Linked DNA regions of Homo sapiens: all the other regions are reported to be linked to region 2. Evidence: microRNA targets listed by miRTarBase, many of them from high-throughput screens and not tested one by one. Region 2 holds a microRNA gene; each other region holds the end of a gene's coding sequence.
What was found. The annotated mature microRNA hsa-miR-3183 reads GCCUCUCUCGGAGUCGCUCGGA and lies in region 2 at 1,874-1,895, opposite strand. An mRNA with a match to its seed (bases 2 to 7 or 8) in the 3' UTR can be bound and repressed. Matches are read on the target gene's strand: a 7mer-m8 pairs with bases 2 to 8, a 7mer-A1 pairs with bases 2 to 7 and ends in A, and an 8mer does both.

Region 1: miRTarBase lists GTF3C4 as a target of hsa-miR-3183. Seed matches in the 3' UTR shown: 7mer-m8 at 2,011-2,017 and 8mer at 883-890.
Region 3: the mRNA of ITGA1 is a reported target of hsa-miR-3183. Seed matches in the 3' UTR shown: 8mer at 741-748.
Region 4: miRTarBase lists GPR37L1 as a target of hsa-miR-3183. Seed matches in the 3' UTR shown: 8mer at 1,392-1,399 and 7mer-m8 at 579-585.

What each region holds. Positions count from the first base shown.
Region 1 is chr9:132,688,795-132,691,878 of GRCh38, reverse strand. It overlaps GTF3C4 (general transcription factor IIIC subunit 4), which reads right to left. Exons shown (of 5, transcript NM_012204.4): 5 at 1-2,998. The coding sequence ends at 2,934. Among named protein-coding and RNA genes, the nearest start is that of GTF3C4, 20 kb to the right of the region's middle.
Region 2 is chr17:1,020,656-1,023,655 of GRCh38, forward strand. MIR3183 (microRNA 3183) reads right to left here and starts at 1,904; the gene lies at 1,821-1,904. The region is part of intron 16 of ABR (ABR activator of RhoGEF and GTPase); the gene reads right to left.
Region 3 is chr5:52,952,134-52,955,226 of GRCh38, reverse strand. It overlaps ITGA1 (integrin subunit alpha 1), which reads right to left. Exons shown (of 29, transcript NM_181501.2): 29 at 1-2,820. The coding sequence ends at 2,776. All of the region lies in intron 2 of ITGA2-AS1 (ITGA2 antisense RNA 1), which reads left to right. Among named protein-coding and RNA genes, the nearest start is that of ITGA2, 36 kb to the left of the region's middle.
Region 4 is chr1:202,128,024-202,131,105 of GRCh38, reverse strand. GPR37L1 (G protein-coupled receptor 37 like 1) reads right to left here. Exons shown (of 2, transcript NM_004767.5): 2 at 1-3,082. The coding sequence ends at 2,550. Among named protein-coding and RNA genes, the nearest start is that of GPR37L1, 6.6 kb to the right of the region's middle. RefSeq lists enhancers at 1-439, 440-1,223.

The sequences.
Region 1 (3,084 bases), not on the chromosome of region 2:
TTAAACTTGCTGGTAGGTCCAGCCTGCATACTTCAACATTAACATTCTCAAAAACTTCTTAGAGGGAAAAGCAGAAAAATGTCATATTCAACCATGAGCTTTGCCAGTGGCTCTAATAACTTCTGACATTGAAAAATAATTGGTAGTTTTGGCAGATATAATAGTAGGTAGAGATTGCTTGAAGTCTGCCTGGTGGACACACAGGGATTTCAGAATGAGTACCAAGCATAACAAGCTATCAATTTCTTACCTAGAATAATAAGAACAAATTAACCCCAGGCAGAGAAAATGTGATACCTATGTGGGTATCAGACTCCCCAAATGCAACCACGTTGTAGCTTAAAGGGTCTAATTGTATCGAATCTTTGCTCCTGTGCTTTACATGCAGCGCGGCAATAGCACTTCCACTATTTCTCCAGTTCCTGAAACAGTTATTACGGTCACAGCTGAAAGCAACTTGAAATCTACCAAATAAGATCAGGCAAATTTTAGGACGGTATAGAGGATGTAAGTTTGAATTGCAAGAGGCACCTGAAAAACGTCTGGTGCCATTCCCACTTTTCCAAGGTTGCACTGAGCAACACACTCCCATGAGGTATGCTGACCCTCAGAGAAATTCAGAAGCACTATTTGTGAGGCTGCCATTAACTCAAAATCTCCTGTTTCCCCAGCTCTGTAGCTTAACCTCCATGGGTGTGAGACAGGGACAAGGGCAGGGAAAGGCCTTCCAACTGGGTGTGTGGAAACCTGGGGGAGGCAGGTGGTGGCTAGATTTTAGGGTCTTAACAATGCCATTGGGTCCAGTCCCTGCAGTGAGTCCACGTTCTAGAAAAACTGTTGCCATGTTTACTCCTAGAGAGACATACAAAAAAATTTGGGAGATCCTCTCTAGTTACTCCCAATACATTTTCTCAAAAATGCACAACTGCTTTAAATAAAAACCTAAGTTTTAAATGGCAGCAGTCCAAAATTCCCTAGTAAGAACAAATCTCCACTGATTCTAATGGGGGGAGGGGAAGTGAAACTATGCCATAATGATTAAAACTGCAATAATTTTTTGACATGATCTCAATTTTTACTCTTATTTATTGTAAAGTGAAAAAACAGCTGCAGACACAAATGACTTCCACCATACAATGTTCTGAATTCTGTTACTCATGATTTCAATGCTGCTTGGTTTCTTTCTTGAAAATCAATAGTGGATAAACGCTCTTCTTGAAATTACCACCAAATGAGAAAAATAAGCAGAATAGCAAATACATGATTAAACATAGGAGACAAAACAGCAATTTGAATAGGAAACAGAAAACATTTCTGAGCAGACTGTTTAGAAGTGCCTCCAAGGGCTGGTCTGCACTACCTATCAATGCGGGGTGGGGGTGGGGAGGTTGCCGTCATGGTATCATCTAAGTACCAACATTTTTTTTCTTTTTTTTTTGAGGCAGTCTCCAGTCTTGCCCAGGCTGAAGTGCAGTGGTGCCACCTCGGCTGACTGCAGCTTCTGCCTCCTGGGTTGAAGTGATGCTCCTGCCTCAGCCTCCTGAGTAACTGAGATTACAGGCATGCGCCACCATGCCAGGCTAACTTTTGTATTTGTAGTAGAGACGGAGTCTCGCCATATTGCCCAGGCTGGTCTCGAACTCCTGGCCTCAAGTGACCCGTCTGCCTCGGCCTCCCAAAGTGCTGGGATTACAGGTGTGCACCACCACGCCTGGCTAATTTTTGTATTTTTAGTAGAGACACGGTTTCACCATGTTGGTTAGGCTGAACTCCTGACCTTGTGATCTGCCTGCCTTTGCTTCCCAAAGTGTTGAGAGTACAGGCATGAGCCACCAAGCCCAGCCCCATCTGAGACATCTTAACAGACCACTGGGTGGGTAGGGGTTGGGGGCAGAACCTGGATTCCAAATATCAAGGGACTGTGCAGAGGAAAGAAATTCCCAGGCTCTGTTCAACTTAATTGCACAAGCTTACAGCACCAGAGCTCAAGGGTCTCACTTCTGAGCTGTCCCTCTCTAGAAGTCTCCAGACAGACCCCTGGATACTAAATGAAACATCTGGAAATGTCAACATTAAAAATACTGAAAGTCTTATTACTAAAAGAGGAAAATATCTTTTTTTCCTCTGTGTACAAATAGCTCATCTAGGCTACCACAGTTAAGTCTGAAGCAGGGCTGTGGCGTGGGTGAACTACAGTATTTGACATCTTTATACGGATTAAGGAGTTGGGTCAGGAAACCTGATGACCCAGGAGAGAATGAAAAATAAGTCACAATTATTCATTATAATAGTCACCAGATCATTTGACACATTAAATTTTAGTCTTGGCTTCAACTTAAGAATATAGAGTTTTAGGAAAATGTTTTCCATATGCATAAAAAACAAGAATGGAGGGATGCAGACCAGCAGCTATTTTCTGAGAACAAAACATCAGCCCATGTGTTGCTTTACACTTTTAATCTCTGTTGGTACATCAGATGCCACGGACCAAGCAATTTAAGTTCTGGAGCCCGAAGGCAGTTCCAAACCAAAGCAAGGATTAAAACCTAACTCAACCCAGCAAGGTCCTTATCCAAGCTCTCTAGAAGAGACCATTCTGTTTCTAGAAATGACGGGACACTGTGTTCAAATTGCTTCTGTCAAGATACTTAAAAATAAGTAAGTGTTCCTCATTGGTTACAAAGCTGGGGCTAATGCTCATCTCAAAACGACTCCAACTCTCTGAGTCCAGCCATTTCAAAGGACATCCTTTAGTCTCTGGAAATGGAGAGTGCGATTCAGAAATGAGCTCCAGGGGCCCTCTTTACAATCACCAAGGACTTCTCTCCACTCGTGAGGGTCCGGCTTCCTCCAGTGCATCCTTCTCTTCAGGCTGGAGGAAGTTTTCTATGGCAGAGTTCATCATGCCCTTCCATCTTCCCGTCACTGATTATTTAGAAGACAGGAGAATCACAGAAAGGGCAGGGGCTTTGCAGTAACCTCTTAATCCAGTCGGGATCTGCAAAAGGAGGACAAGTGGTATCAACTGTTAGCTTCGGAAAAGACAGTCAAAAGGGATGAATACCGGACTGTAGCGTTGAGAGA
Region 2 (3,000 bases):
GACCTCATGTTTGGGGCAGGAATCAGCAAAGTGGCCCCGCAGCGGGGAGAGGATTTGAGGCTCCAGGGCAGAGGGTGCTCCACGCACACCTGAGCGTCCTCCAGGGCTGAGTTTCAGGAACATCCTGGGGATGCCCCTGAGGGTCTCAGCCCTTCCTCTCGGCTCACCTCTCACCCCCTGGGGCAGGTGACCCCATTTCTCCTGCCTCTGCCCGGAGGGCTGCTCCCGGCCAGCTCCCCGTGCTCGGATTCAGGGGCACGCTCCCTCCGGTCTCCACTCCTGCTCCCTCGGAGGTGGCAGAGCCCCCATTCCAACCCAGTGCTCCTGCCTGCTGGGCCACACTCTCCACTCCAGCACGCAGCTCGCCCCAAGGTCTTCGGAGATGGTTTCCACCACCTCCCCTCCCACAAGCCCTCACCCAGGGCCCTTTAATCCACAGTAAGGGGCCTGTGGTGGCCCTGCCCAAGGCAGGTGGGACTTAGAACTGGCCACTGGGGGTCTCAGTGGAGGGGGGAGCAGAGGTCCCAAGCAGCCTTCAGTGGACGCCACTCAGGACGTGATCCAGGGGCTCACTGGACGACGGGAATCTGAAGACCACATTTGCCAGGGCCCCAAGAGCTCCCAGGCCTCCGCCTCCTTCCTGAAAGCCGCTTCCCTCAGGAGCCCACTCGGTCACTCCCACCGCCCAGGAGCTGACCCCCCGAGGAGCCCTGCCTCCAGGCACAGCCCTGCCCTCGGGGGCCGCCCCATCCTGCCTCTCACGGCTGGCGCTCTTCTACCCTCCACCCTCTGAGCCCCGGCATCCCAGAATGCGGGAGGGTTTCCCTCAGAGGGGGTTGCAGAGGTTCATAAAAAAAAGTGCTTCTTCAGCCAGGTGCGGTGGCTCACGCCTGTCATCCCAGCACTTTGGGAGGCCGAGGCGGGCGGATCACAAGGTCAGGAGATCGAGACCAACCTGACCAACGTGGCGAAACCCCGTCTCTACTAAAAATACAAAAATTAGCCAGGCGTGGTGGCGGGTGCCTGTAATCCCAGCTACTGGGGAGGCTGAGGCAGGAGAATCGCTTGAACCCGGGAGGCGGAGGTTGCAGTGAGCCGGAGTTGAGATTGTGCCACTGCACTCCAGCCTGGCGGCAGAAAAAAAAAAAAAATGCTTCTTCACAACAAAGGTGGTAAATCTGTTCCTGAGAGGTGGGACAGGAACGCTAGAAAATGACTCCCAGCCGGGCGCGGTGGCTCATGCCTGTAATCCCAGCACTCTGGGAGGCAGAGGCGGGCGGATCACTCGAGCTCAGGAGTTCGAGACCAGCCTGGCCAACCTGACGAAACCCCATCTCTACTAAAAATACAAAATTAGCCGGAAATCACTTGAACCCGGGAGGCAGGGGTTGCAGTGAGCCAAGATAGCACCACTGCACTCCAGCCTGGGCAACAGAGCAAGACTCTGTCTCAAAAAAAAAAAAAAAAAAACAGAAAATGACTCCAGAAGGACCTCAGTGCAAGTGGCCCCCGGACAGGGAACCACGTGGAAGGTGGAGCTGTGTGGGCACATTTCACGCCTGCCCTGGAGGGGCCGCGGAGCCCAGGCCCTGAGCCAGGCATCGGGTCTGAGGGTGGGCACGTTTCCTGGGGCTCCCAGGCCAGCGGCCACGGTGGCAGCCCGGGCTGGCTTTCCCCTGCCCTCCCCCAAGGGCAGCCCCACGCTCAGGGCTGGGTCCCCTTGGGACACCGAAGCCGGCCTGTCATTGGGGCAGACCACAGGCGTGAGAGGCACGGCGGGGCTGGCAAGCTGGCAACGGGGGAGACGGGAGTTGCCAAGACCCTGCCTCTCCTCCCTCGAGGAGGCGCCGGAGGATTCCGTCAACGTGACTGCTCCGAGCGACTCCGAGAGAGGCAGGGCAGAGAGGGAGGGGCTGCCAGGACCTACCCCTGGCTTCCAGCTCAGCAGCTGGGTTGGGGACACCGGGCCAGGCTCCATAAACTCTCCACACATCTTCCCATGGCTTGGCATCCACACTGCTAGGCCAGGCAGGCTCCGCCTCTCCAGCCCTCACCCTGCAGGGTCAGCCAGGCTCCCTTGTAGCCAAGGTGTCCTGCAGCCAAGGTGTGCCCACCTGCCATACCCAGGCCAGCCACAGATAGGCTCGGGCTGATGCCGTGTCCCAGGGCCTCGGCTGGCTTCCCCTCCAACACCAGAGAACTTCGAAGTTCCCCAAGCCTCATGGGAGGAAGGGGATTAGCAGCTCTGAACGACGCTTTTGTCCAAGGCAGGCTAGCCTCTTAGCACCCGCAGCAACCTGCCTTCCCCAGCGTCCATTCTAGCACCTCTGCCTGCCCCACGTCCGCTCCAGAGCCTCTGCCGGCCCCACGTCCACTGCAGAGCCTCTGCCTGCCCCACGTCCGCTCCAGCGCCTCTGCCGGCCCCACGTCCACTGCAGAGCCTCTGCCGGCCCCACGTCCACTACAGCGCCTCTGCCGGCCCCACGTCCACTCCAGCGCCTCTGCCGGCCCCACGTCCACTCCAGCGCCTCTGCCGGCCCCACGTCCACTCCAGAGCCTCTGCCTGCCCTGGCACCCACTTTGCTTTTAGCCCCCGGGCTGGGCATGGCTGACCTTGAGGAGAAGCAGACAAAATCCAAACCTGGGCTGCTCTTGGAGGCCCCACAGCCAGGCACATCTCCCCCAGCGGCCTAGGGCTCCGTCTTCCTCAGGGCCAGCCCACCCCACCACTGCCTCCCTGTGCAGGCAGCCTGGAGGCTTCAGCTTCAGCTCAGAACTGGGCTACAAATACCAGCCAGGAAGCCGGCCCTGCCCCAGCCCAGGGCAGGTCGAGGATGCCAGAGTGGCAAGGGCAGGGGCAGTGGGGCCCTCTTGAGAAAAGGAACAGGCCAGGGCCAAAGCAACACGGAGGCCCTGTCCTGAAAGGAAAGGGGCGCCCTCAGAGGTCAAAGTCCAAGATGAGAGGCCTTCTGTGGTCCTGACCAGGAAGCTTCACGCTGG
Region 3 (3,093 bases), not on the chromosome of region 2:
ATGGAGAGAGAATATTTGGACCATGGAAATTGGCAAATGATACAAATCAGAGACTGTTTTTTTTTTCCCTCCTGGACAGTGTGTTGTTAAATAATTTACCAATATACCATTGTAGTTTGGTCAGAAAAGAGAGTGCATACATGGTTCAGTTTACAATGGGAGCAATAATCAATTATTTAGAATACCAAAGTTAGAGAAAAAGAAACTTTTTGGCAATTTGGCCAATAAGTTTATAAATAGTCTTAAATATCACCTGTTTTTCTAATTAAATGTTTTAAAAGTAAATGATAGAGTCTAGTACATTTCTTAATCATTAAATATGTTTTATAACATTTGTACAAAGCTGTTTTGAAACATTTGTTGACTTTTTTTAATCAAACGCTCTGTACTTGTTTTTTAAATAATTGCAGAACTATAAGTTAAACCTAAATATTAATAAAAATGAAACTATATGAAACTATATGAAACTAGATGAATCAAACTTGTCTTGCAGATATAGCTTTTGTGTTTATTTTCTGTAAACTCTGTTTTTTGGTGTTATAGAGCTATTTTTGTATTCAATTTATATGTGTACATGTGTCTGCACATGCACACACACACACACACAAACCTCAACAAATTATAATATTAGAGAAACAGGACTTCTGGTTCATGAAATATTTTACTTAATAGCCAGGAATGACTTATGTTAAAAATTGTGCCGGGCTTATAAGTATCTCTTTGATCTGGCCAACAGCTCTTCCTCTCTTTTCTAAAAACTTCAAAATGCCCTCATTTCTATTTTTTCCCTTTCAGTTAACAATTTAGTTTAAAAGTGCACACTTATGGTTCAGTAAATGGGCTTTGTCTAGTAGTCACAGATGCTGAGTATGAATTTCAATGGATCCGTTAGCTTTACTACTAAGATCTTGCTGAGATCAGAGAAGGGCTTCTGGGCAGGCTGAGCACTGGGGGTGTGCAACATGGTAACTCTGAATAAGAGAAACCCTGAGTTTTACTGGGCAAAGAAAGAACAAGTGGTAGGTATGATTTCTGAACCTGGAAATAGCGAAAATGAAGGAAATTCCAAAAGCGCGTATTTCCAAATAATGACAGGCCAGCAAGAGGACACCAAACCTCTAGAAAGAGGTATTCTTTCTTCCAGCTACTGATGGCTTTGGCATCCCACAGGCGCATTCCTTTGGCCTTCAGGATCTTAGATGCGGATGTGGAGAGTCAAGAGGTAGGCTGACTCTGAGTCTTCAGCTAAATTCTTTGGAAATTAGTTTAAAAAAATAAATTTATAACATTTAATTTCTATGTGGATTTGCTCCTCTTTGAACAAAGCAGAGCCCAGGAGTTTCTGGATGAATACATGTTCTGGTCTTGTTACAGGTTCTGGTAAATCAGATGGAGAAATGTTGTTGCAGAAATGTCAGCAAACTTTACAGCAGTAGTTCACACATGCAGCTACTATACATTCATTCATTGCTATTTTCCTAAGAAATGGAGCAACCTAGGAGCTTATGCTACAGTAGATTCCAATGAACCATAATGACTACTTCAAGAACAAAGAAGCACATACAAAGGTGTGATATCTTCCTGTTGGTTTGAGTTTTCAAACCTGAAATTCTTTAAAATACATTTCTGGGATTTTATTTAAATATTGATGCAACACACCTAAAAAGCAGTGACTTCTTGGTAAAATGTAATACTGAAATGGAAAATTGTCTTTTCAAAAAAATAAGAAGTGTGGTTGGAAATTAAATACCTTTTAAAAAATTAAAAATAAACACACTCTCACAGCTTGGGGGTTTGAATGAACCCTGTACCAAGGAGTTGAGACAACTCTTTCTTTGGGTCACATACTGGAACCCTTAGCATTCAAAAGCTGCTCAGCAAAGATAATTTCAGCATTTCAGTGGCATCTTTCTCTGCTGTCGTATTTCATTCAGAAGCCATTTTAGCATGTCCCCCATATATGGCTTTTCATGACAAATCACTGTGATGCCACACAAAACTACTTTAAGTGTTTTTTCAGTATAAAAGAGTTTTGCATTTAGAGCTCAATATCAAAATTAAGCATGTTCTGTAAAAGCTTAATTTAACCCATTTAATATACTTGTTTTTAAACGAGTCTATCCTGATTTTCCATCCTAGATAAAATTTTAGCTCAATTGCAGTACTTTCCAATCACCTTGGGCAGGGAGGGAAAATTTTTAGGTATAGAACCCAACACAAAGATGCTAAATGTATTCTTGGTGACTTAATTTTCAATCCATATTGTATATGGATTCTACCAAGGGAAAATATTCTCATTTGAATAGGGAGAAATGATCTTTTTCAGGTAATTCTTTTCTTGGCATTTACGAGTGCTGACTGTCATGCTGAACATGGATATCCAACAGGAATCAAGGGGAAAAGCTTAATTTATATTGTTTTGAAAATAGATGTTTCTATGATCATAAAAATCTTTTTATATATTCCTTAAATATTTTGGATGGTGATTTAATACATAAACATATTTGTACAGGTTTTTTTAAAAACACTTTGTAATTTTGCTTACTCAACAAAAATGAGTAATTATGTAAAATATTTTTTGTCATTTTATAAAATATGTCTTTTTGGTATTGTTTTTGGATAATGCATGACCTGTCATTTTCCAAGTAATGAATCCCTGATGGATTACATAGTTACATGACTATGTCATGAATTATACATTTCTTGTCACATATTTGAGGCAAACCTGAGGATAGATTATTGAATAATTGTTATTATTTTCTTTCATAAAATATTTCATTTCTCCATTTTCTTTTTCAGTGGTCTTTTGAAGAATCCAATCTGTTGAGAAAACACAAAACATAACACAATTAACTATTTTAATTTAGGTAGCAAATATTAATCCTTTGGATAGAATTAAATTTAATAGTATATTGGCAATGCTGGGCACACAACTAATATAATTAAGAAATATTTTCTCATTGACCTATTAATATTCAATGTCAAAAAATGACATTTATTAAATTGCTGTTTCTTTTTTTTTCTTTTCTTTTTTTTTTTTGAGACAGTCTCACTCTGTCACCAGGCTGGAGTGCAGTGGCGTGATCTCCGCTC
Region 4 (3,082 bases), not on the chromosome of region 2:
CTGGGACCCCTAAGCAACAAACCCTACATTGTTCCCCCAGCTGGCCCAGGCTGCGAGGACAGTGGCTCTTTCCCAAGGCCGCTGGCCTGCTGACTGATTCTGCAAGCCATTCACGTTGGCAGGCTTGGGAGGTGGCGGTGGCAGAGCCTTGGAGCCACCATCTCTCCCCCTTCATCTCTGAGCCGGCCAACCAGCAGGAGGGAGAGGTGGAGGGCACCCTTTGTGGAGGAGGACCCCTAAACAGGATGTTGAGGGGTCTGACTCCCCTGCCCTGGACTTCACCTCAGTTCACCCGGCCCCTTCCTGCATCCCTTAGGAAGCTGGTGGTACTTCCGGGCCTGGCAGGGGGGTGGAGAAGGAGTTGGGGAAATGCCGAGGAAACGGTCCCCAAGAGCTTCAGCACGACAGGCCTGCCTTTGGTCCCCTCTCCAACCTGCTCCCCCACCCATCTGAAGTTTCTACAGACAGAGCTGGGGGCTTCAGTCACCGTGGCAACAGGTCTGCTGAGAAACGGGTGGGTGTCACTCCCCAGCACAAAGGGTGTGTGCATGGCGGCGCCATCACCTAGCAACGGCCTCCCTCTCTCTTGGCGGCATCACCCGCCCTGGGGGTGGGTGCCAGGGAGAGAGAACAAGGCCGTTAAGATCCCCAGGAGAGGGGGAGGGAAGCTTGGGTACAGGGCAGGCTGAGGCCAAGGGGTGTGGGTGGGTGGACAGAGGAGAATGGAGCCCCAGGCGCTTGGAAACCCTGCCCCTGCCCATCCCTGGGCCCCCGGGGCCCTTCCTGAGGCCCCATGTGGATGCTGTAGGTAGGCCTGGTGGGCAGAAGTCTGGTGGGACCCAGGACAGAGCTTCAGACAGGGGGGGTGGTTCTGAGGAAAGCTGAGCTCCCAGGCGGGGAGCGACTGGTGGCCTGGCTGAGGCATCACTTCTGGTTGATGCTGTGCCAGCTTCCCAGGGACCTACAAGGCTAAGGGTGCCCTCTGGAAGGGACCAGAGGTGGGGCTGGGGGAAGTGGCACTTCAAGGGCAAGACCCCACAGGAGAAGCTGCATGAAGGGTCTGCCGGGGGCAGTGGGAGCTCTGGCGGGAAGGGTGGTGCAGTGGGGGCTGGGTGGGGGCAGGCCAGGGCAGGCAGCTGGGCCGTCTACAGGCAAAACAGTCCATTCTAAGAAACTGAACAAGAGCAGCTCTCAGAGTGACAAAGGCTGGGAAGCCCTGGGGCTCACAGAGGAAAGACCACTGGACTCCCTCCAAGGGGGGCTTTGTGGAGAGAGGGCATAGCAGAGATGAAGGCTCCAGAGGAGATATTTTCCAGGCTTTTGACTTCCCAAGGAGCATGGGGTTTAGGCCAGGATGAGGACTTAGGTCCTCCGGCTCCCCAAGCCCTCCATCCTCTCTGTCCCTCAAAAGCCATAAAACCCTTGGAGTCGCCAGGGCCACAAGGCTGTTCTGAACATCGGCCACAAGGCTGTTCTGAACATCAGCCACAGGCCAGGCCAGGTCAGGAGAAATTCTCCTAGGCACTGCCAGGCCAGGAAGGCCCAGCTGCATCTGGGCCCTGCCAGAATGTGGCACAAGAAAGTGGATGGGCATAGGGGTAGTTCTACCTAGTTTATTGTTTCTCAAGAAGGGCCTCCTATGGGAAAGCACCTAACAAGGAGGTTGGGACAGGGCAACCCAGGGATCCCAAAGAAAGGAGGAGGAAGGAGAGAGAAATCCTCTGGAAGAAAAGAAGGCACCAGTAGGAGGAGGCATCCAGGACTGGGACAGATCTGGTCCAGAGAAGAGTGTACTGGGGCTGGGCGTGGCAGCTCACACCTGTAATCCCAGCACTTTGGGAGGCCAAGGCAGGCAGATCACTTGAGGTCAGGAGTTCAACACCAGCCTGGCCAACATGGTGAAACCCCGCCTCTTCTACAAATACAAAAATTAGCCGGGTGTGTTGGTGCACACCTGTAATCCCAGCTACTCAGGAGGCTGAGGCAGGAGAATCGCTTGAACCCAGGAGGCGGAGGTTGCAGGGAGCTGACATCAGGCAAATGTACTCCAGCCTGGGCAACAGAGCAAGACTCCATCTCAAAAAAAAAAAAAAAAAAAAAGAAGAGTGTGGTGAGCCACACTGGGCTGGCCCCAAGGAGCCCCCATTCCAAGATGGGGCCCCAGGTTGGTGGTAGGAGGATGATGCCTGGGAAGGGCACAACTAAAGTATGGTCAGGTTCCAAGGCAGAGAGAGAGAAGAGAGACTGGAACCAAGGGAGGGCAGGCAAAGTTCTGGCTCCCAGCTGCTGGGACTCAGAGTTTCTGGGCAGTTCTAAGGACCTAGAAGCATCACCGCCCACCAGTGGAAAGGACAGGGTTGGAAGGCCCCACAAGGGACAGGAAAGGCCCTGTGTGGGGAGGGGGCTTTGACATTCCCAAACCTTGACAAGAGGAACCAAGTCCATCCCTAGACAGCAAGACAGGCAACAAAGCAAGACCTATGGGGAAAGAACAGCAGACACCGGCGGGGGTGGCGGCCTCTCCCTCCCTCCCCACCCCTACTGGGGCCTCAGCAAGGTGTGCCCAGGGGCAGGAGTGGGGGTGACTCCCTGGGCTTGTGGAAGTAGATGGAAGAGGACACCTCGGTCTTGAGCTTGTTGTCCGACCCATTGGCAGCAGAGGCCTCCGAAGCCCCGCCGCACTCCTCACAGCAGCAGCAGCAGCAGCAGTCCAGGAAGGCCTGGCCCAGCGGCCTGCAGATGCAAAGGAGCAGCACTGGGGTGATGGCGCCCTTGAAGAAGGTGGAGAACTGGTTGATGAGGCCCAGGAGGTCCAGGGTCTGGCGGGTCAGCTCGGTGGAGAGGTAGGCCACCACGATGTTGCAGACGTTCTCTGGGAGGGTGCAGAAGGCGTAGACCACGGTCAGGCCCACCACGGTGCTGTTGAGCTGGCTCTCACACTGCTCGTGCTTGCTGGCCCTGCACTCTGACTTCCTCCCTGGAGGGCCTCGCACCCGCCATGTCACCAGCTGGCAGGTGACTGTGAAGAGGATGGGCAGGCAGAAGTAGCAGCCAAAGTACCACCACATGCGGGCGTTCTGGT